Linked DNA regions of Homo sapiens. The protein of the gene in region 7 purifies or fractionates together with the protein of the main gene of each other region. This does not show direct contact. Each region holds a gene or a part of one and is shown on either strand. Other genes may lie near its edges.

Evidence for each region.
Region 1: the proteins of MATN2 (region 7) and CMAS purify together in Homo sapiens (affinity purification with mass spectrometry, with the first as the bait; one large-scale study listed by BioGRID). This does not show direct contact.
Region 2: the proteins of MATN2 (region 7) and SGF29 purify together in Homo sapiens (co-immunoprecipitation; 2 studies listed by BioGRID and IntAct, with this or other methods). This does not show direct contact.
Region 3: the proteins of MATN2 (region 7) and ITIH4 purify together in Homo sapiens (affinity purification with mass spectrometry; one large-scale study listed by BioGRID and IntAct). This does not show direct contact.
Region 4: the proteins of MATN2 (region 7) and CP purify together in Homo sapiens (affinity purification with mass spectrometry; one large-scale study listed by BioGRID and IntAct). This does not show direct contact.
Region 5: the proteins of MATN2 (region 7) and POC1A purify together in Homo sapiens (affinity purification with mass spectrometry; one large-scale study listed by BioGRID and IntAct). This does not show direct contact.
Region 6: the proteins of MATN2 (region 7) and KLHL26 purify together in Homo sapiens (affinity purification with mass spectrometry; one large-scale study listed by BioGRID and IntAct). This does not show direct contact.

Annotation. Positions count from the first base shown.
Region 1 is NC_000012.12:22,052,718-22,056,217, reverse strand, and holds part of CMAS (N-acylneuraminate cytidylyltransferase), read right to left. Parts: intron 1,070-3,500; coding exon 927-1,069; intron 764-926; coding exon 608-763; intron 1-607. UniProt on the Homo sapiens protein: Catalyzes the activation of N-acetylneuraminic acid (NeuNAc) to cytidine 5'-monophosphate N-acetylneuraminic acid (CMP-NeuNAc), a substrate required for the addition of sialic acid.
Region 2 is NC_000016.10:28,556,920-28,560,419, reverse strand, and holds part of SGF29 (SAGA-associated factor 29), read right to left. Parts: intron 1-3,500. UniProt on the Homo sapiens protein: Chromatin reader component of some histone acetyltransferase (HAT) SAGA-type complexes like the TFTC-HAT, ATAC or STAGA complexes.
Region 3 is NC_000003.12:52,820,673-52,824,172, reverse strand, and holds part of ITIH4 (inter-alpha-trypsin inhibitor heavy chain H4 isoform 1 precursor), read left to right. Parts: exon of another isoform or gene 1-61; intron 62-168; coding exon 169-350; intron 351-431; coding exon 432-617; intron 618-3,042; coding exon 3,043-3,182; intron 3,183-3,387; coding exon 3,388-3,500. UniProt on the Homo sapiens protein: Type II acute-phase protein (APP) involved in inflammatory responses to trauma. May also play a role in liver development or regeneration.
Region 4 is NC_000003.12:149,208,330-149,211,829, reverse strand, and holds part of CP (ceruloplasmin precursor), read left to right. Parts: intron 1-1,450; coding exon 1,451-1,663; intron 1,664-2,445; coding exon 2,446-2,619; intron 2,620-3,500. UniProt on the Homo sapiens protein: Multifunctional blue, copper-binding (6-7 atoms per molecule) glycoprotein. It has ferroxidase activity oxidizing Fe(2+) to Fe(3+) without releasing radical oxygen species. It is involved in iron transport across the cell membrane.
Region 5 is NC_000003.12:52,078,075-52,081,423, reverse strand, and holds part of POC1A (POC1 centriolar protein homolog A), read left to right. Parts: intron 1-3,349.
Region 6 is NC_000019.10:18,643,528-18,647,027, reverse strand, and holds part of KLHL26 (kelch-like protein 26), read right to left. Parts: intron 2,391-3,500; exon of another isoform or gene 2,362-2,390; intron 1-2,361. UniProt on the Homo sapiens protein: May play a role in endo(sarco)plasmic reticulum (ER/SR) mitochondrial signaling. May be part of the ubiquitin-proteasome system (UPS) and affect ubiquitination and degradation of target substrates in cardiomyocytes.
Region 7 is NC_000008.11:97,872,064-97,875,563, reverse strand, and holds part of MATN2 (matrilin-2 isoform a precursor), read right to left. Parts: intron 1-3,500.

The DNA.
Region 1 (3,500 bases), on a different chromosome or scaffold from region 7:
ATGACCTTTTTTTAAAATGGATAAAAAAATGGAAAATTTCAACAGAAAATGGAATCCCTACGAAACAACTAAAATGTACATTACTGAATGGAAAAACACAGTGTTTATAATAATTCTCTGGATAAGATTTATAGCACACTGGACATGGCAGGCAAAATGCCTAGTAAACCCTAGGGAACCCTTCTTATATATGGAGTTAGGAATTTGGGGAAGAACTTCAAAATGTCATTCTTGAAATCCTTCAGAACACTTTGGTGGATGCTTTCTATCTCTATATGACTTGTATGGAGTTCATCAAACATGTCTAGAACAAACATAAAAGTATTTGATCTAGAAAAACAGCATATCTGCCTCAAAAGGCAAACAGAAATAAGAGGATTAGAATGTCCCTTTGTAAAGAGTAAAGCAAAGAATTAATTTGGTCTAGCTGTGTTGGCTCGATAACAGATTTACAGCTGATTGTAAATGTCATTACCTACTAAAGTAATGAGTCAAATACTCTCTTTTACAGCTCCCCTTTTACTCTCCTCATGCCTAAAGGATATTTATATACAAAAAAATTGATTCTCAATAAAATCAGCTAAAATAAAGACTGAAAAGAGATTACCTCCTTTCTGAATTTCACTCCATCGAAACTGATGGCGTCTCACAACAGAGAAAACAGAATCATATCCTTCTTCTCGAATCATTTCTGCAACTTTTTGAAGATCAGTAGGATGTAAACATGGAGAAGTAGCTTGAATATTTCCTACAATGTCAACCTCTTAAAAAGACAAGAGAAATGAAAAGGATATTTAAAAAAAAAGTTCCTTGCAAGCAAGTAATATTAAGGTTTGGAATTCAAATGTTAAAACAAGTCTTATAAGATAATAAAGGAAGTAGAAAAGTACATAAAGGTTTGAATAAACTATTAATCAAATTCATACCATTATGATAATTAAGAAATTCTATGATGGCATCTAGTGAGGTAGAGCTGTCTTTTGAAACTTCAGAACTTCTTCGATGAACTTGTGCACCAAATTGTTTGGCCACATTCTCAATTTCATCATGGTCTGTCGAAACCCATACACTGTTCAGATATCAAAAGAAATTAACAGCCAAATCAAAAGAAATCATTAACAATAAAATGGAGCTCTGTAACCATAAAATACAGCTTATATAATGTGAGAATATTTTTTGCACAATGATAATAATGTTACAGATCCAAAGGAGTATAAAATGTAAGAAATTATAAAGTATTTTGTATATAAATATATTAATGAATAAAAATGCAGTCCTAGATATGCTTTATATAAAGAAAGGAACAACAGACACTGGGGCCTACTTGAGGGTAGAGGGTGGGAGGAGGGTGAGGATCAAAAAACTACCTATCAGGTACTATGCTTACTACCTGAATGACGAAATAATCTGTACACCGAACCCCTGCAACATGCAACTTACCTCTGTAACAAGCCTGATGTACCCCTGAACCTAAAATAAACGTTTTTAAAAAGGCACTAGAAGTCAAATCTAAAGAAAATTAAAGATCTTGCTTATTCTCCATCCAAATCCAAAATATTGTATAAAATATTTTAATATGCTTGCTAAAAAAAAAAAAATGGACTTGGCTTAGCCAAACCCTAAAGGTGAAACAGTTTCAAGCTTAGAAGATAATAAATGCCCAAGTCTGGGCTCAAAAAAAATCAGATGAAACAACTCTTTCTTTTTTAAACAACAAACAATGGGTATATAGATGTAGAATCAGCTGGGTTATAGCCATTGATAACAACAAACATGAAGAACATGACTTCATTAGCTCAAAAGAATTTAACTTAATACTCTATTAACCGCAGGTTACACAGTTGCCTATTTAGCCTTTACAAAATGATGAGTAGGCAAAATGCTGTTTTGGAGAGGGGTACCAGTTTCTATTGAAGTTTTGTTTCCTGGACAGTCACAAATTCCCACTGCTAAATGCAGAAGATGTAAATACTACTCTAGCCACAATGTTTGGTCAGGCCTGGAGTCTCACACCTGTAATCCCAACACTTTGGGAAGCCGAGGCGGGTGGATCACCTGAGGTCACGAGATGGAGACCAGCCTGGCCAACACGGTGAAACCCGGACTCTACTAAACATACAAAAATTAGCTGGGCATGGTGATGCACACCTGTAATCCCAGCTACTAGGGAGGCTGAGACAGGAGGATCGCTTGAACCTGGGAGGCAGAGGTTGCAGTGAGCCGAGATCGCGCCACTGCACTCCAGCCTGAGAGACACAGCGAGACCCTGTCTCAAAAAAAAAGACAAAAAACAACAACAAAACCCTGCCATGTTTTTTTGTTTTGTTTTGTTTTGTTTTGAGACGGAGTCTCGCTGTGTCTCCCAGGTTGGAGTGCAGTGGCGCGATCTCGGCTCACTGCAAGCTCCGCCTCCCAGGTTCATGCCATTCTCCTGCCTCAGCCTCCCAAGTAGCTGGGACTACAGGCGCCCGCCAACACGCCCGGCTAATTTTTTGTATTTTTAGTAGAAACGGGGTTTCACCGTGTTAGCCAAGATGGTCTCGATCTCCTGACCTCGTGATCCGCCCGTCTCGGCCTCCCAAAGTGCTAGGATTACAGGCGTGAGCCACCGTGCCCGGCCCCCACCATGTTTTAATAGTGATTTATGCAAAGATATCTTAATGACTTATAGTCTTTGGTGTATGTGTGTGTATATATATATATATATTTGGTGTGTATATATATATATACACACACAAACATATATACACATTATTTTATATACATACAAAATTATATATAACGTGTATATATAATGTGTATATATAATGTGTATATGTGTGTGTGTATATGTATACATATACACACACACATATATATTTTTCCTTTTATCCCACTCTTTCGATATCTACTGAGGGAAAGATGAACTGCATGTTTTGTTTGTTTTTTTGACAGAGTCTTGCTCTGTCACCCAGGCTGGAGTACAGTGGCCCATTATCTGCTCACTGCAACCTCCACCTCCCAGGTTCAAGCGATTCTCATGCCTTAGGCTCCTGAGTAGCTGGGATTAGATTACAGGCATGTGTCACCACGCCCGACCAATTTTTAGTAAAGATGGGGTTTTGCCATGTTGGCCAGGATGGTCTCAAACTCCTGACCTCAAGTGACCCTCCCACCTCAGCCTCCCAAAATGCTAGGATTACAGGTGTAAGCCACCACGCTCGGCTGAACTGCATGTTTGTCTATGCTCAATTATCATGAGTGGAAAGAAAGTGAAAAACTAAAGAAAATCTTCTAACATCCCTGGATTTCATTTATTTATTTCGTTTATTCCCTTTAATATTTATAGAGGGATTTAAATCAAGGGATAAAGTCAGTAAGAAAAAATAATCAAAGAAAGCCTAGCAAACAAGATGAGCCACTGGCTAGGGGTCAAGAATCCCGTGATATCTACTTATGTCACTCTATGCAGGGCGAACGCAGGAGCCCCCATTTTCCTCCATCTTGAAATCTGAAATAGT
Region 2 (3,500 bases), on a different chromosome or scaffold from region 7:
ATGGGGTTTCACCATGTTGGTCAGGCTGGTCTCGAACTCCTGACCTCGTGATCCACCCACCTCAGCCTCCCAAAGTGCTGGGATTACAGGCGTGAGCCACTGTGCCGGGCCCATTCATTGCCTTTTTTTGTGAACACAGATCATATTTTCCTGTTTTGTAAAAATATATTTTAAAATTTTCGTGGTTTTTTTTTTTGAGTCAGAGTCTTGCTCTGTTGCCCAGGCTGGAGTGGTGGCACGATCTCAGCTCAACCTCCACTTCCTGGGTTCAAACAATTCTTGTGCCTTAGCCTCCTGAGCCTCCTGTGTACCACCACGCCTAGCTAATTTTTTTGTACTTTTAGTAGAGAAGGGGTTCTGCTATGTTGGCCAGGCTGGTCTCAAACTCCTGTCCTCAAGTGATCTGCCTGCCTCAGCCTCCCAAAGTGCTGTGCTGGGTTTACAGGCATAAGACACCATGCCCAGGCCATTTCTTGTGTCTAAGAATTTTGGATTATATCCTGGACATTGTAGATGATGTGTTGTAGACTCTGGATTCTGTTATGTTCTTGAGAGTTTGGTGTTTTGTTTCTGTTAACATGCAGTTAATCACAGCTGAACTCAAACTCCAAATCTAGCTTCCCTGAGGCAAGCATCAGCTGAAATCTGTACTGATCTTTTAAACTTGGCTAAGTTGCTTGGAATATGCCCCATGTTTGTCTAGTTCAGAGGTTTAGGCAGACTTTTTAAAATAACAGCTTAATGGGCCGGGTGCGGTGGCTCACACCTGTAATCCCAGCACTTTTGGAGGCCAAGGTGGGCAGATCACTTGAGGCCAGGAATTCGAGACCAGCCTGGCCAACACTGTCTCTACTAAAAAAGTACAAAGATTAGCTGGGTGTGGTGGCACACACCTGTAATCCCAGCTACTTGAGAAGCTGAGGCACAAGAATCGCTTGAATCCGGGAGGCGGAGGTTAAAGTGAGCCAAAATCGCACCACTGCACTCCAGTCTGGGTGACAGAGTGAGATTCCGTCTCAAAACAACAACAACAACAAAAACAGCTTAATGAAGATAATTCGCATGCCATACAATTCTCTATCTCTCTATCTACTTATTTGAGACAGGGTCTCACTCTCATTGCCCAGGCTGGAGTGAAGTGGTGTAATTACAGCTCACTGCAGCCTTGACTTCTTTGGCTCAGTCAATCCTCCTGCCCCAGCCTCCCAAGTGGCTGGGACTACAGGTGTGCACCACCACGCCCAGCTAATTTTATAATTTTCTGTTGAGATGAGGTCTCATCATATTGCTCAGGCTGGTCTCAAACTACTGGGCTCAAGCAATCTTCCTGCTTCAGCCTCCCAAAATGTGCTGGGATTAAAAATGTGAGCCACCGCACCCACCCCAATTCACTTTTTTAAAGTGTGCAATTCAGTGTTATGTTAGTCACAAGGTTGTGCAAATATCACCACTATCTAATTTTAGAACATTTTCACCAACTCTCCTTAAAACCTTATACTCATTAGCAGTCATTCCCCACCCCCTTCTCCTCTCAGTCACTGGCAGCCATTATTCTAATTCATATTTGTAGATTTGCCTATTCTAGACATTTCATATAAATAGAATTGTACTGTGACCTTATGTGACTTGCTTCTTTCACTTAGCATGTTTCCAAAGGTCATCAATGTCACAGCATGTATCAGTAACTTCATTCCTTTTTATGGTTAAATAACATTCCATTCTATGGATAGATGTCGTTTTTAATCCACTCATCTGTTGAAGAATTTGTGAAGAATTTGGAATCCCTTCTCTGGGGCTATCTTCTTTCCATCATGGGCTTTTTAATGCCTCATGACAAGGCATTTAACAAAACCAATAAACAGGCGGGTCGCAGTGGCTCATGCCTGTAATCCCAACACCTTGGGAGGCCAAGTACAGAGGATTGCTTGAGCCCAGGAGTTTGAGACCAGACTTGTCAACATAGCGAGGCTCTATCTCTACCAAAAATAAAAAGTACCCAGGTGTGCAGCCAGGCGTGGTGGCTCACACCTGTAATCCCAGCACTTTGGAAGGCCAAGGCGGGTGGATCATGAGGTCAAGAGGTCAAGACCAGCCTGGCCAACATGGTGAAACCCCATCTCTACTAAAAATACAAAAAAAAAAAAAAATTAGCTGGGCATGGTGGTGCATGCCTGTAGTCCCAGCTACTTGGGAGGCTGAGGCAGGAGAATCACTTGAACCCGGGAGGTGGAGGTCGCAGTGAGTCGAGACTGCACCACTGCACTCCAGCCTGGCGACACAGCGAGACTCCGTTTCAAAAAAAAAAAAAAGTACCCAGGTGTGGTGGTGGACTCCTGTAGTCCCAGCTTTCAGGAGGCTGAGGCAGGAGGATCTCTTGAGGCCTGGAGTTCAAGACCAGCCTGGGAAACACAGCAAGACCCCGTCTCTGAAAAAAAAAAAAAAAAAAAAAAAAAACAGAGAAAGAAAAACAGAAAATACTGGTGACATAATTTAGGCTTCTGGATAGAGTCCCATCTGAAACTGATTTACTCCAGGACTCTTCAGCTACAGTCTGTGAGGAAAAAACAAAACTTTCTCCTCTGCTGTCACAATATAGGATAATCAACACATAAGATTTCCGTGGCCAAATGTGTGGAGATTTCTCCCCAACACCAATCAATCCATTGAGTCTGCAGTGGATACACGCTGGATGTCCTCTAATTCAGTTTATTTCCAACACTATCCACCCAGACAGAGTGTCAAACCCCACAGGTTGAGGGCTCAGTCCCACGAGCATGTCCCCCCAATTCTCAATGCCAGTCACAAGCCCCCAGTTGCTTTATTTGTGCTTCTGACCAACTGACTATAAATCAGGGTTTCCATGACTCCCTCCTTGGGTTCCATTAATTTGCAGGAGCAGCTCTCAGCACTCAGGGAAACACTTAGGTTTACTGGCTTATTATAAAGGATGTCACAATGGATACAGATGAAGGAAGAGGTGCACAGGGCAAAGCATGTGGGAAGGAGCGAAGAGCTTCCATACCCACCCTGGGCACGCCACCCTCCAGGAAGCTCCAAACTGGGATACAAACCAGATATATATTTTACAATATCACAGAGTCAACAAACACCCCTTTCAGCTTAGGCTAGTCAGAGTAGCTTTTTGTTATCTGCAACTGAGTAGCTTGACTAATAAGAACTTTCATTAAGCACGGTCTGAAGAGATAGCCAATTCTGAGGGACAAAGGCTGCAGGGTAGAAGCATATGTTAACCACTAATACCCAGCCTAAAATTGCTGGCCCTTTTACTATAATAGCATAAAAGGCCTCAAATAAACAAATCCAAATATCCTACACTTAAGCCACTCTAAGATTAATCCCACAGGGCTTAAAACAGTAAGAGCTTTGTTCTGGGTCAAAGGGAAAGAGGAACCTAATACCCCACACTCACATCCCACACTCTCAACCCAGTCACTAGCAATGAGAATCTGCAAACTGGGTGCAGTGGCTCATGACCGTAA
Region 3 (3,500 bases), on a different chromosome or scaffold from region 7:
GACTCCAGGACGTGCTGCACAGGGGAGGCGGCTGGGGCTGCACCTGGGCTTGCTGTGGGATCTGGGCAGGGAGAGGGGGTCACTGAGGCCCCTCGGCTCTGAGGTTCCAGAAATATTCTTCAAGCAAATCACTATTTTCTCACCCTCATCCCAAACCCCTGGGTCCAGGGGAGACTAACCCCAGGAGCATCCAGAATAACGTGCGGGAAGCTGTAAGTGGCCGGTACAGCCTCTTCTGCCTGGGCTTCGGTTTCGACGTCAGCTATGCCTTCCTGGAGAAGCTGGCACTGGACAATGGCGGCCTGGCCCGGCGCATCCATGAGGACTCAGACTCTGCCCTGCAGCTCCAGGTGCCAGTGTGCCCCAGGTGGGCTGCACAGAGAAGTGGGCAGTCATAAAGCCCAGCCTTTATGACACCCCCAACCCTGCAGGACTTCTACCAGGAAGTGGCCAACCCACTGCTGACAGCAGTGACCTTCGAGTACCCAAGCAATGCCGTGGAGGAGGTCACTCAGAACAACTTCCGGCTCCTCTTCAAGGGCTCAGAGATGGTGGTGGCTGGGAAGCTCCAGGACCGGGGGCCTGATGTGCTCACAGCCACAGTCAGTGGGAAGCTGGTGAGTGTGGCCAAAGCCACCCTGGAGGGGAATGGCAGCCTCCACCTCTGCAGCCAGAGGGGCTGGACTCAAATCCCAGACCTGCCCAGCTCCAGCTTTCCCCTCTGCTGCCTGTGGATGACACAGGGGCATGGCAGGGATTCAATGAGACAATGGAGTGATTCTCATGAGACCAGCACATACAGGCTCTCGGCAGCCGGTCTGTGCACCTGCAAGCACAGGTGAGGGCAGGGATTCCTCCCTAGTTGTCATCCCTTCCTGTCCTGGTACCACAACCCTCTCAGGTTGCAGTCAGACAGGGAGGGCTGCTCCTATTTCACAAATGAGCAGACTGAGCTCCAGGCAGGGCAGGCAGCTTTCCCCGGGCCCCACTGCAACCAGGCCAAGAGCCCAGCTTGCCACGTGGCACCCTGTCCTTGCCCAGCCTTCCCTGCCTCCTTCCAGGGACCCCCTGTCATTTCCACAAAGAGAAACTGAGCACAAGCTCTGCGGCAGGGCCTTCTTCAGGCCCTGGGATGCAGCAGTGAATGAGGCTGACCCCTCCGTGCCCTCATGGGAGAGACAACCCAAGGACATATCACCACACAAACCAGCTACAGGCTGGGATCTAACCCTGGACTCAGGAGAGCAGCACCAGGAGCCCCAGCCTGGCCTGGGGATCAGGGAGGGCTTCCTGGAGGAGGCCCAGCAGAGACAAAAGGATAAGTAGGAGGTGGGAAGAGTCCAGATGGGGCAATGGAGGAATATGTTAGGCCCCTGTGGCATGAGGGCAGCGTGTGTGAAGAGAATAGGAGTGGGCGTTGGGGGCCCATGGCCTTGTTTCAGGACAAGTCCCCAAGTGTCATGACTGTTGGTACGGTCTGCGTGGCCACCCTGCCTGGCTTCAAACCCAGCTCTGCCACCTCCCAGATAGGAGACATGGAGAAGTCACTTAACCTCCATCTACTGCAGTTTCCTCCTATGTAAACATGGGAATAAGTCGCATGCCCCCCTCATAAAGTCACTGTGATTGATGTCCAGTGATAAGCACTCCATACATGTCAGCAGGTGATTTAGCTTGGAGGCCGTGGGTTCCCAAAGTACAGAACCCAAGGTGACTCAGGGGAGTTCACAGACAGACATGGCTTGTTTTAGTGGTTATTTACTTATTTTAATGTGTATTCTGAAAAATATGACCTGAACTTCAGACCTAAGATTTTTTTTTTTATTTTTTGAGATGGAGTCTCGCTCTGTCTCCCAGGCTGGAGTGCAGTGGTTGGATCTCGGCTCATTGCAAGCTCCACCTCCCAGGTTCACACCATTCTCCTGCCTCAGCCTCCCAAGTAGCTGGGACTACCAGCATCCACCACCACACCCGGCTAATTTTTTGTATTTTTAGTAGAAAGGGAGTTTCACCTTGTTAGCCAGGATGGTCTCGGTCTCCTGACCTCGTGATCTGCCCACCTTGGCCTCCCAAAGTGCTGGGATTACAGGCGTGAGCCACCGCACCTGGCCCAGATCTAAGATTTTATGGACATAAAGCCAAGTAAAAATTGTTAGCTTACTTAAAGTTCATTTAAGGAAAAATATCAATTAAATAGCTGTATGTGTGGATGGGGCAAAATTCATGCAGGTAGCCTATGTGTGCCAAAGCTTTGGAAAGCCAGCCAGGCTCTGGGCGAGAGACAGGCTGCTCCAGTGGGAGCAGACCGCAGATCTGATCCGCACTGTGAAAAGGTCTCTTGGCCACTCAGGGAGCTCTGGTGGGAGAGGCCTGGGATTCCTCTGCCCTAGGAGCCCATTTCCCAGGCAGCGAGCTAGGTCAGTCTGAGACCACAGGCCCCTCCCTGAGGGAGGAGGGAGCAGGTTCACACAGAGCTTGGGTGCATGCTTCCCTGTCATTGTCCCACGGTGGCCAGCCGCAGAGGGGCCAGCTTGGACAGGGACAGCCGTTGGGGTGGATGGGGCCCCAAACCCGGAGCCATGACATCTGAGTTGTGTTCTCAACTCTGCCTCTGACCCCTGGGAAGGTCCTTCCCTCTCTGTCCCTTTCCCTCAGCTTTGGGGGTAAGGGCAGGCTGTAGCTAGACCCTTCCTGCTCCACACTGCACTTGCAAATCCTTCCTGCTGCTGTTTCTACACTGGCCTGGGGTTCCCATCCCTTTCTTCCAGAGGTTTGGCTGATCTGAGTCCTGGCGCTGTGCCTGCCTTATTGTATCTGGGCTACTTTGCTACCTTTTCACCTCCTTCTCATCCCTGTATGCTCTGTGACTGAGCCCCTTGCACCCCTAAGCCCCCTCCTTACCCCCACTCAAAGGAAATGCAGTCCCCACAGTCAGTGTGTGGGACCTGCCCCAGCCCCAATCATGGAAGAGCTCAGAAGTGCCAGGCAGATGCAGATGTCCGGCCCTCACTGCTCCTGCCCTGGCTGGGCCCCTCTTTCCAGCCTACACAGAACATCACTTTCCAAACGGAGTCCAGTGTGGCAGAGCAGGAGGCGGAGTTCCAGAGCCCCAAGTATATCTTCCACAACTTCATGGAGAGGCTCTGGGCATACCTGACTATCCAGCAGCTGCTGGAGCAAACGTGAGTGCATCAGCACCTCCCTAAGCCTGTCGCTAGGGGGCAGGCACAGGTGGCACGGTACAGCGCCTAAGCATGGAGAGAGGGGGGTCTTGGCATCATGTCCAAGCTCCAGATTCTCCCAGAGGGACCTCCCCAGAAGGGGCTGGATGGAAAATCTGTTCCCGAATTCAAGGATCTCCTGAGCTCTGATGTGCTCCACCTACAGTGTCTCCGCATCCGATGCTGATCAGCAGGCCCTCCGGAACCAAGCGCTGAATTTATCACTTGCCTACAGCTTTGTCACGCCTCTCACATCTATGGTAGTCACCAAACCCGATG
Region 4 (3,500 bases), on a different chromosome or scaffold from region 7:
ACAAAGTGCATCAGAGCCTAGAAGAGGCAAAATCCAGAGGGAAGAGAAAGAAGGACTCAAGATGTGGATTGCCTTATCTTTGAAGTTCCTACATGTAAACATACTGTGCTGTTGTTACCTCCCATCCTAACTTTATATAAACTCTGCCCCAGCTAAGGTGGCATAAGTAGTCTCATGTCAGTCAAATGGTACATATGCCTGGATGACTGTAGTCACATATGAGACACAATTAACTGAAAAAGTCATTTGAATGTAGGACTTGGAAGCCTTGAAAATAGTACCTGAAAAACAAAGATAAGGTTTGGTGCCTGTGATCTCATTCTTAGTCCTTAACAATGATGGTAAAAAAGGTGGTATTTTGTAGTGATGAAAAGCAAGGGCTTTGAAATTAATAGACAAAGGTCTGAGCCCCAGCCTTGCCTTTCACTGTTTGAGTGACCTTGGACAAATTACTTAAGTTCTTTCAGCTTCAGTTTCCTCATCTATAAAATAGAGATAATAAGAATACATAGTAATACCTCAATAACTATCAGCTGCTATCATAAGCAAAAATGCTGAAGTCATGCTACAGTTCATTGAAATTATAATGATCGAATAGGGAAATTAATTTAAAATTAGATTTGATTCATTATTAGTTGTCTTATTAAAAGAGATATTGGTTTAGAAAGTGAATGTGTTGACTTTTTTTGTTTTTGTTGTTGTTTAGGGATAAATTACATTCATAGCATAAAAGGCTGACTGCCATCCTATTTCTTTTTAATGATTTCATGGCTTACTAGGGAATTACCATTCATTTTAAAGGTATGGTAATGGAACTGTGGTTTTGTTAGAAGAAAAAAAGGGTTCCTATCTTTTAGAGATACATACTCAAGTATTTATGAATGGAATATGATGTCTGAGACGTGCTTTAAAATAATTTGATGATACTGGGGATAAGAGTGTGTGGGGGTACAGATGAAACAAGGTTGGCCTTGAGTCGATCATTGTTAAAGCTGGTTTGATGGGTACACAGAGGTTCAGCATTTTCTTCTCTCAACCTTTGTGTGTGTTTGGAAATTTCCAAAATTGAGAGTAGAAATGTTTTTAATTTTATGGTTACTTCGTGGGCAAAAATCTGAGATCATATAAGAAGTTTTGAATTTAGAAGAGGGTAGCCTTTTTGCTCAGACTCCCATACCATGACCCGAGTTCTTTACATTGCAAACAAAAAGTCATTATGCTCTCTGAAAACCCAATCAAATATAAAAAAATAATAAAAATGTCTGTGAAGCTTCTACACACCCTAGCCATTAGCCTTTCATTTTCCTGTGTCCAAATAGGATAACACATCCCCAAGGATCACATAGTAGATGTTTAATAAATGTTTGCTGAATGAATTAATGGACTATCTATTCTCTCATTTAAGTTCAAACACATTCACTTTGCACCTTCATTGCATGTTGCTTCCTAGGGGCCATCTACCCTGATAACACCACAGATTTTCAAAGAGCAGATGACAAAGTATATCCAGGAGAGCAGTATACATACATGTTGCTTGCCACTGAAGAACAAAGTCCTGGGGAAGGAGATGGCAATTGTGTGACTAGGATTTACCATTCCCACATTGATGCTCCAAAAGATATTGCCTCAGGACTCATCGGACCTTTAATAATCTGTAAAAAAGGTACATCTTCTCCTTATTGCACATGCTATATGACCAAAAGACAGGGGCAGGGCAGTTTGTCTTTTAAAAAGAAATCAAGTCTTCTGTGCTGAGATTGAGCAGGTAAGGTAGAGAGGTGGTAAGTAGAAAAAAAGGAAGGGAAGAGCCAGGCAGGACTAGGAGAAGAAGGGATAAATAGAACAAGCATTCCTACGGGGAAAATGCCAATGAAGGTAATGTGAAAGAAATATATTCTCTCAGGGTTCAGTTTGCTGTATCTAACTTCCAACAGTGGTGCTGAAGAGACATATGACTTTACCAAATGTGACTACCAAAAGGGCACTCCACGGTGATAGATCTGTAGTTACTCATACTATATTGGTAAACATAATATCATAGTATTTATTTCTAACATCATGAAAAAGACAACGGAGCTCAAGAGCCTGAAATACAATTCTAACTTGAACAATCGTTACCTGTAAAGACTTGTCTCTGTTTGTGGCTATATGCACCAGAAAATAGACGCACAACTTTGAATTCCAATCTTCCCATTTGCCAAAAAGCATTTAATAGTTATGTGGTCAGTGGACATCCAGACACAGGAGTGTCTTCCAAGCACCAGATACTGATCATAAAAATTCCCTGAGTGTTTCTGTCTGTAAAACAGGAGTGACTGGTCCAGACTTGTGATTTATTCGAAAAAATAAATACTAACATTTTTAAAAACTATAAATCACCTGAAAACATAAATCAAAATACATGCTAAAAGTTTAGTCTTGCTAAAATAGTAACTTTAACTCCAGATTCTCTAGATAAAGAAAAAGAAAAACATATTGACCGAGAATTTGTGGTGATGTTTTCTGTGGTGGATGAAAATTTCAGCTGGTACCTAGAAGACAACATTAAAACCTACTGCTCAGAACCAGAGAAAGTTGACAAAGACAACGAAGACTTCCAGGAGAGTAACAGAATGTATTGTAAGATTACAGCAGACATGTTAACTTTACTTTTTTTTCCCTTGATCCATTAATTCTGCTAAGCTTATTCCCTCACATAAATAAGTACTGTGTGTCTAGTCTGTGGTCCTTATAACAAAGCATATTGGATGTGCAATTTGATATTCAGCTAAGTAAGTCAGAATAAAAACTCTAAGCCAGGTAAAGCCAGATACACCAAACTTGTTCCCCAACTGGTAAGGATAAAGCATCAATTATGGTTTAATGCATATGTATGTGACATTAATATATTTATTTATCCACTAGACTCATTCTAAAAATTATTTGAGGCAGCTCCAAATTATTAAACTAAATGCTTAAAACCATATTATATTTTAAAGCATCTAACTATATTTAAGAAAATAGTTCAAACCACGAGTTCTGAAAGGTATTCGTTTTACATACTATGTTGCCCTCACTGGGCCCCTTAGTCTGCATCATTCGTTTCTACATTTCAGTTCACTTTACTTTTCTAGAAATGCTTTTTTTACAGTTTAGACTTTTTCTTAATTCTCAGACACAAAATAATGAGCTTAGTAAGATTATCTATTTCTCATAATTTGCATGAGAAACAGAGTCCCTTAACAACAACTAGACCAATAAGTAGATATTTTCGTTTATTTGTTTGTGTTTAACTTCTTCAAAATAACCTGTACTCAGAAACCGAGAGCACAAAAATAACGATACTACCAAAGTAGAAAAATAAACTAGTTAACAAAGTACAGATTTTGTTTCCAACTTTTACTTATATCTGGGTGGAAGGTCCTCTTTCCATACTTTAATCCTGTCTCTGTTGTGTACTAACAAAAATAGTTGTTATAAAAAGATACTCAAAATTCTAGCCTGAGCAGGTTTGATTTGGT
Region 5 (3,349 bases), on a different chromosome or scaffold from region 7:
CGAGTCTGCGTATTATCATCCTGGGCCAGGCACAGGCCAGCGTTGGGGAGGTGCTTTGTGAGAGTTTGAGTAAGGGAAGAGCGAGGGCAAGGGTCAGCAAATTTAAACAGTAAAGATTTTAGGCTTTGTGGACCATACAGCCTCTGTCAACCTGTCGCTGGACCCAGAAGGCAGCCAGAGACCATACGGAAGCCAGCAGGCGTGTCCATAAAACCTTATTTACACAAAGGGGCAGCCGGCCGTAGTTTGCTAACCCTTGGTCTAGAGAAACAACAGAATACATTCGATGGCAAACAAGTGATTTTAAGGCCAAGGCTTTCTTGAGAAGGGCCATGGCTTCCAGGAAATTGCTGGTAACAGAGTAGGAAAAGGGTTCAGAAATGAGCCCCCAGGTGAACCTCGGCAGATGTGACTTTGAAGATAAAACTTCTGGAGCCCTGCTGACCACACCCCATGAGGCTTCCTGACACTGGCCATGAGGGCCTTGACTTGGGAGGCGGACAGTATCGGGTGAGGAGTGACAGTGCCCAGGCCATAGGGTCCTCAATCCGGCTTCCTGTCACTCCGATTTAGGGAGAGAGAGGTACCTTGTTTAAAGTTGAACCTTGTCTTCAGGGGATGGGCCACCCAGCAGTGACCCAGGCGAGTTCCACAGCATGTTTTGGGGCTGATCACTTAATGCTGCAGTGGCACAAGTGCCAGTGAAAGAAGCGTTGACAGTGAAGTGATTGGGGCAGCTTCTCGTGGTGCATCCAGGAGGAGGTTCTTGTCACTATGTCCTTTCGGTTCCTATAATATTGAGTTTTCATGGCTCACATGAATTATCCTTATGACCTTTGTAATAATTCCAAACCTAAATGTTTAGCCAGGTAAGAGACTGCTTTTCAGGGGGAGGTGACACATGAGGCCTGACAATGTGAGGGGGTGGGTGACCCTGGGGGCTGTCCATTCCCACTGTGGCTGAGGTAGGAGTTTCTGCTCATTTAATTCAGAGCAGCTAGGCCAGGCAGCCTAAACCAGGACAGCAGGTGCTGCTGCTGGGTGAGGACAGGGATCCCCTAGTCTTTCCTCAGGCTGCCTGAGTTTGGGCATCAGGGCTGGAAGTGGGATGGGACACCAGCAGGCCTCTCCTTTGGCATTCTTGATGGGGACAGAGCCAAGATGCACACTACCCAGTGCTTTAGTGTGCTCACTGCAGCCAGGCCACCTAGGCTCACAGCCTAGGCTTGTCACTGATAAGCTGTGTAACTTTAGGCAAGTTACTTAATCTCACTGTGCCTCAGTTTCTTCATCTGTAAAATGGGGATGATAAAAGCTCCCACGCTGAAGGTTTGTTGAAGTTTTTGGCACACACGAGCGTCCCGTGAAAGTCAGCTGCCAAGAGAAGCCCACAGAGCAGAGGGTCAATGATCAGGGTGAACCGCCCTGAGCCCAGTCCCAGGACCTCCTGCTGGTCCCCCTCATGTTTAAGCTCCACACCCCAATTACATGGAGGACTTAAGAATGTTCCCAGGGTAGCACCAGGTCCAAGGAAAGGGAATGAGCTGCCTGGTTTCTCCAAGGTCAGCAGACAGAAGGGGCCGCACTGTGGAAGAGTTGGACCCCAGCAAGAGGGAGTTCTGGGAGATGGGCCATCTTTCCTGGCCACTTTGCCCAGGCTGCCCCTCTAGCAGCCAGAGCCCTGGACTCCTCAACCCCTTCGTCAGTTTCCCTTTACCCTGCCCCAAAGCCAGAAGCCATGGACGCTTGTGTCAGGCAAAGCAGTTTCCCTTGTTGACACCTGGCACCTGACACAGCCTGTACCTCTTTGGGGACCTTCTGAGGGGCTAGGACCAGACCTCTGGCCCCTGCTCCCCTGTACAGAGCACAGGGTGAGAGGCAGTGTGATCAAGGAACTGTTTGGAAGGTCAGCGCTCATTTTTCCTTGAATAAATGAAAGTCGTGGCTTCCAGGCCATGGAGTGTGGACCCGGGGAGGCCGCAGAGGTATTTGCCTGCAGAGCGCTCCTCCTCACCCTCCAGGGCAGGTGTGGCCTTGTCTCCAGCCTGGTGAGGACAGGCGCTGGTAGCAGGATAATTCCCGGGCTGGACGGAGCATGAGGCGACGAGAGCAGCCTGCTTGGCTGGGCCCCGCTGGGAGTTGGGCCACTAGGCAGCAGGTGGAAATGGCAGTGGCCTGTGTACACCGAGGTAGCATGTATTTTCTGAACCCTCGTATGGGTATGTGGGGATGTGCTTACTTTTTGTTGTGAACCGACAGGTAAAGATCATATACATTCTGAACAAGGCCACGTGATATGGCTCCAAACCAGTCTGTGCCAGGGGTACTCCCCACACACCCCTTCTGCCACCTCAGATGCTCTCCTGCCCTCCTCCCACAGCTCCCGTGCAGCTGGGGAAGCACGGTGGCACTGTGATGGCCTGTCCTGGCTGCTCTGGGCCTGTGGCCCAGACAGACTCCCTGCAGGTGGCCTGCCAGCCCTCCTGCCTGTGTGTGCCACCAGCCCTGAGTGTGTCTCCACTTTGCCACTTGGATGCCCAGTGGGGCATTTCCATCATGGGGGAACCCCTTCCTTCCCCTTGTAGAGGGAAGGCACACCAGCAGCATTTCAGATTTCCATGTTTCAGCCGGGCGCAGGGGCTCACGCCTGTAATCCCAACATTTTGGGAGGCTGAGCCGGGCGGATCACGAGGTCAGGAGATCGAGACCACGGTGAAACCCCGTCTATACTAAAAATACAAAAATATTAGCTGGGCGCAGTGGCGGGTGCCTGTAGTCCCAGCTACTCGGGAGGCTGAGGCAGGAGAATGGCATGAACCCGGGAGGCGGAGCTTGTCGTGAGCCGAGATCGCGCCACTGCACTTCAGCCGGGTCGACAGAACGAGACTCAGTCTTAAAAAAAAAAAAAAAAAAAAAAAAAGAGATTTCCATGTTTCACTGTCTATGAGGAGTCACCATTTTCTGTGAAAATGAGGTCCTATGCTTTATTAAGAAAATTTGATTTTTAAGAAAAATATAAAAATTTTTAAGAAAGTAGGATTTTTTTTTTTTAACTACATGGAGCAAAGAGTGCCAGACAGCATTCTAATGTACAGAAATCCAAAAAGCATCCTGCTCTCCCAGGCCTTCTCCTGGCTCAGAGTGGGGGCAGCTGGGATCACGTGTGCTGGGAAGGGCCTGGTTGGACTTCTTTCTCCCTGATGGTGGCCACCACGAGGCACCTTGGCAGAGAAGGAACAGGGGAAGCTGAGACCAAACACAGAGATGACACAGCTCCTCTGAAGCTAGGCTGGAGGGGGAGAAACTGCCTTGAGGGGTGTTGGGCCTCATAAAAGCCTGTTTGTCTACT
Region 6 (3,500 bases), on a different chromosome or scaffold from region 7:
TCTTGGGCTGGCCCAGTTCCACCTGCCCCCATCCCTGCTGAGACGCGCCACCCCCCGCCGCCCCTGCCCCCGCCCTGCCGAGCTCCTGCTCCCAGGCCTACTCCTGGCGGAACCTGCCCTCTCCAGCTCACGCTGGACGTGCTCTACTCTCTCGCTGCCCCTGCTGCTGTCCCTCTTACGGCCCAAGTCATGGCACTACTGTCTTCCCAATGGCTCAAGTTCACCCTCTCCTTTCCCTGCCTGACACACGCACGCCACATCAAGGCTTGCTGGCATTGACGATCCCCTCAAGGCCCATGCGGGCATGGCGGGCAGAAGGATGGCAGTGTCCCCATCATGGGCGTCAGCACTGCCACAGTAACACTGATGAGGTACATGTGACCTCTCCCCACTCGTTTCCTCCCAGACACCCCCCACCTGGTGGGCCTGGAGCCCCATTTCCCAGATGAGGAATCTGTCACAGCCACAACCCATAAAGAGGGAGCCACAGTCACCCATGGGTATGATGAGACACCTCATGCCGCCATATCTGACCACATTTTCCAGGAGAAGGACTTGAGTCCACGTCTTGGAAGGGTCAAAATCCTCCTTCTGAAAGGGGCATGAGGCCGGGCGCACTGGCTCATGCCTGTAATCCCAGCACTTTGGGAGGCCAAGGCAGGTGGATCACCTGAGGTCAGGAGTTCGAGACCAGCCTGGCCAACATGATGAAACCCCATCTCTCCTAAAAATACAAAAACTAGCCAGGCATGGTAGTGGGCGCCTGTAGTCCCAGCTACTTGGGAGGCTGAGGCAGGAGAATCACTTGAACCCAGAAGGCGGAGGTTGCAGTGAGCCAAAATCATGCCACTGCACTCCAGCCTGAGCTCAGAGTGACGTCAAAAAAAATTAATAATAATAAAAAAGAAAGGGGCAAGAGGCCAAAGGAATGAGAACTTCCCCAAAGTAGCAAGAACCTCCTTGGGAAGCCACCTCTTCCCCTAAGTCTTCCTAGCAGGAGCTGGGGGGCTGGACCCTTCCAAGGCCTCTGGGCTTGGTGGAGATGATCTAGATTGTGGAGAAAGCTTCAACAGGCAAAGGCCACCCAGCCAGACTGACTGTGACAAACCCACCGGGCGCAGCGTCTCGGCCACAACTTTCCATGCAAACACTTTCAGCAGGCAGCAAAGCCCCTGGGCACAACGTCCCAGCCATCACTTCTTTTTTTTTTTTTTTTGATACAGAGTCTCACTCTGTCGCTCAGGCTGGAGTGCAGTGGCAGGATCTCGGCTCATTGCAACCTCCTCCTCCCAGGTTCAAGCGATTCTCCTGCCTCAACCTCCAGAGTTGCTGGGATTAAAGACGCCCACCACCACACCTGACTAATTTTTGTATTTTTAGTAGAGAGGGGGTTTCACTATGTTGGCCAGGCTGGTCTCAAACTCTGGACCTTGTAATCTGCCTGCCTTGGGCTCCCAAAGTGCTGGGATTACAGGAGTGAGCCAAAGCACCCAGCCTAGCCACCACTTCTTATGCAAATGCCTGAAGCTGGCACATCCCTCACCCAGATCCCCCCACCTCACCCCCAGGAACAGCATGACTCAGTGAGCCTGGGCCCTACCCAGGCGTCTCCAGGGAGCGTGGGCCAAAAAGCGTGGATGCCAAAGGCCCATGTCGGAGAGGCTGCAAGGCCAGAAGGTTCCTCCAAAACTCTGCCGGTCAGGTACCTCACAGTGACAGAATTTTAGCTGGGGAGGTGCGACTCCCCAGAGGGTTTGCCTCCCCTTGCGACACCCCAAGTGGCCCAAGCCTCCTTTCCCTCCAAGGAGTCTAGACCCCGCGGCCCGAGCTGGGAGGAGGCCAGCTGGTGAACAAGTGTCCTTTGTGCTTGCAGCAAGGACCCCACCTCCTCTCCGCACACCCCAGCCAGGGCAGCCCCACTCTGTCCATCCCTGAGGTTCGGCTCAGTCATTAATGACCACCTCTACTAGGCAACGGGTTTTTTGTTGATCCCTCGAGATAGGAAGGAAGGAGAATAAGCTTTTCTCTTTCTTTTTTCCCCCTCGGTTGCAGAAGACAGAAGTTGGAACAAACAAGTTATATAACGTTGGGGGCGGTCGGGGGTGGGGGAGCGCAGTCCCTCCTGGGGACAGTTTCTTGAGTTGTGGTACCGCTGGAAGGGCCAGGGGGAAGACAGGAACTGCCCCCGCCCCTGGCCAAAAGACAAAACCTTCGTGGGACAAAAAGGCAGATGCGGGCGTTGCCTGGCAGGCTAGAAAGGCAGCTAGAGACTAAGGCCAGCCCCCACTGCCCCCCAGCAGCCCCACAAGCCTCACTGGAAAGGCAAAAGATCGACCTGATCCCATAGAAGGGAATTCCTACCTGCCAGACTGCAAGCCTCAGAGAGCAATAAGCTTTTGCACACCCCCATCCCTCCCTTCCTCCCTCTCAGCCACGTCTCTGGGACACTTCCTCCTTCTGTGTCATTCATGTTCCAGGCACACAAGAGGGCACAAGAGAGACAGGCTTTCCAACCTCAAGGCACCAGAGAAACACAACAAATAACGTTAGGTGGTGACCAGCATGATCAAGAATATACAACAAGCATGCGCCCCAGCAATTCTGCTCCTAGATGTGTACCCCAAAGGACTGAACATGAGTGTTTAGACAAAAATGTGTACACTCATGTTCATAGCAGCATGATTCATAATAGCCAAAAGGTGGAACCAATCTAAGTGTCCATCAACAGATGAATGGATGATGTGGTGCATCCACACAGTGGAATATTACTCAGCCATAAAAAGGAATGAAGTGCTGATTTAGGCTACAACATGCATGACCCCCAAAGCATCATGCTGAGTGAAAGAAGCCAGACTCAAAAGGCCACATAGTGCATGATTCTACCTATAAAACTTGAAAACGGATAGAGACAGACTGCAGATTGGTGATTGTCAGGGGCTGGGCAATGGAGAATAGGGGGTTAGTGCTAATGAAGATGGGGTCACCTTTTGCGGGGACAAAGATGTTTTGGAACTGGACAGCAGTGATGGTTGCACAATTCTGTGAATGTACTAAATGCCACTGAATTGTTCACTTAAAGTGGGTGAATTTTGTGTTACATATATAGTACCTCAAAAACAAAAAACAAAAATACAGGTTGGGCATAGTGGTTCATGCTTGTAATCCCAGCACTTCGGGAGGCTATGGCAGGAAGATCACTTGAGCCCAGGAGTTCAAGACCAGCCTGGGCAACATAATCAGACCCCATCTTGGCCGGACACAGTGGCTCATGCCTGTAATCGCAGCACTTTAGGAGGCCAAGGTGGGCGGATAACCTGAGGTCAGGAGTTCGAGACCAGCCTGACCAAGATGGAGAAACCGCATCTCTACTAAAAATACAAAATTAGCCAGGCATGGTGGCACATGTCTGTAATCTCAGCTACTCGGGAGGCTGAGGCAGGAGAATCGCTTGAACCCAGGAGGCGGATGTTTTGGTGAACCGAGATCATGCCATTGCACTA
Region 7 (3,500 bases):
TTATTTGGGGTCCAAAGGGGGCTATGGGTGCAGATCTTGGGGGCAGTTACATGACAGTGGAGAGTGCTCACTTGTAAAACTCCATTGAGATTTCCCTCATGATTTGTGCACCTTTTTATATGTTCCTCTGATTTAAAAGAAAAAAATTAACTTAACAAATAAAGTGTGCAGTTCCAGGCTCTATTGCCCTCAGATCCTTCCACCAACAGAGGGACTGAGAGACCTGAGAGCTGCGGGAGAAATTTTGAAGAGTTTAACAGGTGTTCTCTCTTGAGTGGGCCATTGTGCACATTCTGGAAGGGGGTGGTTATTAAGAATGAGGCAGCCCAGGCGGACACTATTTGGAACTCCTTCTCAGGTCCTGTGGCAGGCAGAATAATTGCCCTCCAAAGATGTCTACATCATAATTCCCAGAAGCTGGGAATATGTGATGTTAGATGGCAAAGGGAATTAAGGTTGCTAATCAGATGACCTTAAAAAAGGGGAGATGATCCTGGATTATCTAGGTGGGCCAATGTAATCACGAGCGTCCTCAAAAGTAGAAGAGGGGCCAGGGGCGGTGGCTTGTGCCTGTAATCCCAGCATTTTGGGAGGTCGAGGCGGACAGATCACAAGGTCAAAAGTTCGAGACCAGCCTGACTAACATGGTGAAACCCCATCTCTACTAAAAATAGAAAAATTAGCCAGGCATGGTGGCTCGCGCCTGTAATCCCAGCTGCTCAGGAGGCTGAGGCAGGAGAATCGCTTGAACCCAGGAGCCAGAGGTTGCAGTAAGCTGAGATCACACCACTGCACTCCAGCCTGGGCAACAGAGCAAGACTCTGTCTCAAAAAAAAAAAAGTAGAAGAGGTCAGGGCATGGTGGCTCATGCCTGTAATCCCAGCACTTTGGGAAACCAAGGCAGGAGGATTGCTTGAGCCCAGGAGTCGAAGATCAGCCGGGCAAGATAGAGAGACCCTGTCTCTACAAAAAATTAAAATTAAAAAAAAATTTAGCCAGACATGGTGGCACAATCCTTGTAGTCCCAGCTACTTGGGAGCCTAAATAAGAGGGTCACTTAAACCCGGGAGACTGAGGTTTCAGTGAGCCGTGATCGCACCACTGCATGATAGCCCGGGCGACAGAGCAAAACCTTGTCTCAAACAAAAAAAAAAAAAGAAGAAGAAGAAGAAGAGGAAGGCAGAAGAGAGATCTGAGGTGTGGCAGTGAGAGAAGGATGCAGCCTGACATTGCTGGCTTTGAAGATGGAAGCAAACCGAGCAATGCGTGCAGCCTCTGGAAGTTGGAAAAGGCAGGGGAACAAATTCTCCCTGCTGACACCTGGATTTTTAGCCCCATGAGAACCATTTCAGAATTGTGGCCTCCAGAACTGTAAGATAATAAATCTGTGTTTTAAGTCACTAAGTTTGTGCTAACTTGTTACAGCAGCAATAGGAAACTAGTACAGACACCGTCTGGGAATCTCAGGGAGGTCAAACGTCACTAGAGTGATTTGCTTCACAGAGATCTTGCTCTGGACATGAGGGCATTTTTTCTATTTCACTAGAAATGGAAGAGGAGAAGCAGCTAGAAAAGTCAACAAATGCTGTTGATGGGGCAACAGTGACTGTTCTAAGGGCCAAAGTTGAGGGTTACTGGCCAGGCGTGGTGCCTCACGCCTATAATCTCAGTACTTTGAGAGGCTGAGGCAAGAGGATCACTTGAACTCAGGAGTTCGAGACCAGCCTGGACAACATGGCGAGACCCTGTCTCTGTAAAAAAAAAGTTTTTACAAAAATCTAAAAAAGAAACAAATTTGAGGGTTACTCAAGGGGAGGGAGAAAGCCCAAAAAGGACAGGAAGGAGCCATTTCTGAACTGAGTTTCAAGAAGCATTTGATCCATAGCCTTGACCCCTCTGGTCTTGAGCTTTTGGTCTTTAAGACATGTGAAAACAGCCAAGCATGGTGGCTCACACCTGTAAACTCAGCACTTTGGGAGGCTGAGTCAGGTGGATCATGAGGTCAAGAGTTTGAGACCAGCCTGGCCAACATGGTGAAACCCTGTCTCTACTAAACATACAAAAATTAGCAGGGCATGGTGTTGCAACTTGGGAGGCTGAGGTAGGAGGATCACCTGAACCTGGGAGGCAGAGGTTGCAGTGAGCAGAGATTGTGCCACTGCACTCTAGCCTGGGCAACACAGAGAAACTGTCTGGGAAAAAAAAAAAAAAGAAAAAAAGAGATGTGAAAACAAACTCACCTAACTGGGAGGGTACAGGGAGAAGCCCTAAACAGAAGTGAGCTAAAACTCTTTGATTTAGATCATTTTCTCTAATACTCTAATATTTCTTTCTTTTTTCTAAATAGTTTTTCTTACCATCATGCCCAATCTAATACTCTAATATTTCTGGCAGATAGAATAATATGTCAAAGATGTCTATGGCCTAATCCCCAGACTGTGTTGCCTTACATGGCAAAAGGGACTTTGGGCCGGGTGCGGTTGGCTCACGCATGTGATCCCAGGACTTTGGGAGGACAAAGTGGGCAGATCACCTAAGGTTAGGAGTTCGAAACCAGCGTGGCCAACACGGTGAAACCCCATCTCTACTAAAAATATAAAAAATTAGCCAGGTGTGGTAGCTCATGGCTGTAATCCCATCTATTTGGGAGGCTGAAGCAGGAGAACACTTGAACCTGGGAGGCGGAGGCTGCAGTGAGCCAAGATCACGCCACTGCACTCTAGCGTGGGCGATAGAACGAGACTCTGTCTTGAAAAAAAAAAACGGGGGGACTTTGGAGATGTGATTAACTTAGGAATTATGAGATGCAGTGATTAGCCCAGATTTTCTAGGTATGGTTTTGTAAGAGGGAGACACGAGAGTCAGGATGGGGAGAAGGGTTGGAAGATGCTGTTACTGGCTTTGAGGATGGAAGAAGGAACCAAGAGCCAAGAAATGCAGTCAGGTTTTAGAAGTCAGAAAATGAAAGACATTTTCCCAAGAGCCTACAAAAGGAACCACAGAGCCCTGCTGACACCTTGATTTTAGCTCTACAAAACCCATTTAAGAGTTCTGAACTTCAGAACTGCAAGATAACATCTTAGGGTTGTTTTAAGCCACTATGTTTGTGAAATTTGTTATAGCAGCAATAGGCAACTAATACAACAACATAAAATAACTACAGGGTATCCCCATGGGCAGTGAGCCCCACTTTCCATAAGTAGATAAAGGTTCCTCTGACAGTACTTTTAGAATAACTTTCCAAAAATGTTAGCTGATCCACCTGCTCAGCCGCTGATTTTTACATGCAGGTATTTTGTGAAATTTTCCATTTCAATTGACTCACTTTGAGTACTTTACACCCTTCACACACTGTTGGATAAATTCACATTAATTATTTCATTTAACCCTTACAACAACCCTATGACATAGTATCACGCCCATTTGACAGATGATATAAACCAAGGCTCAGACAATAATAGTAAGTATAGCTAACAAATATTGAGCATTTATTCTGAGCT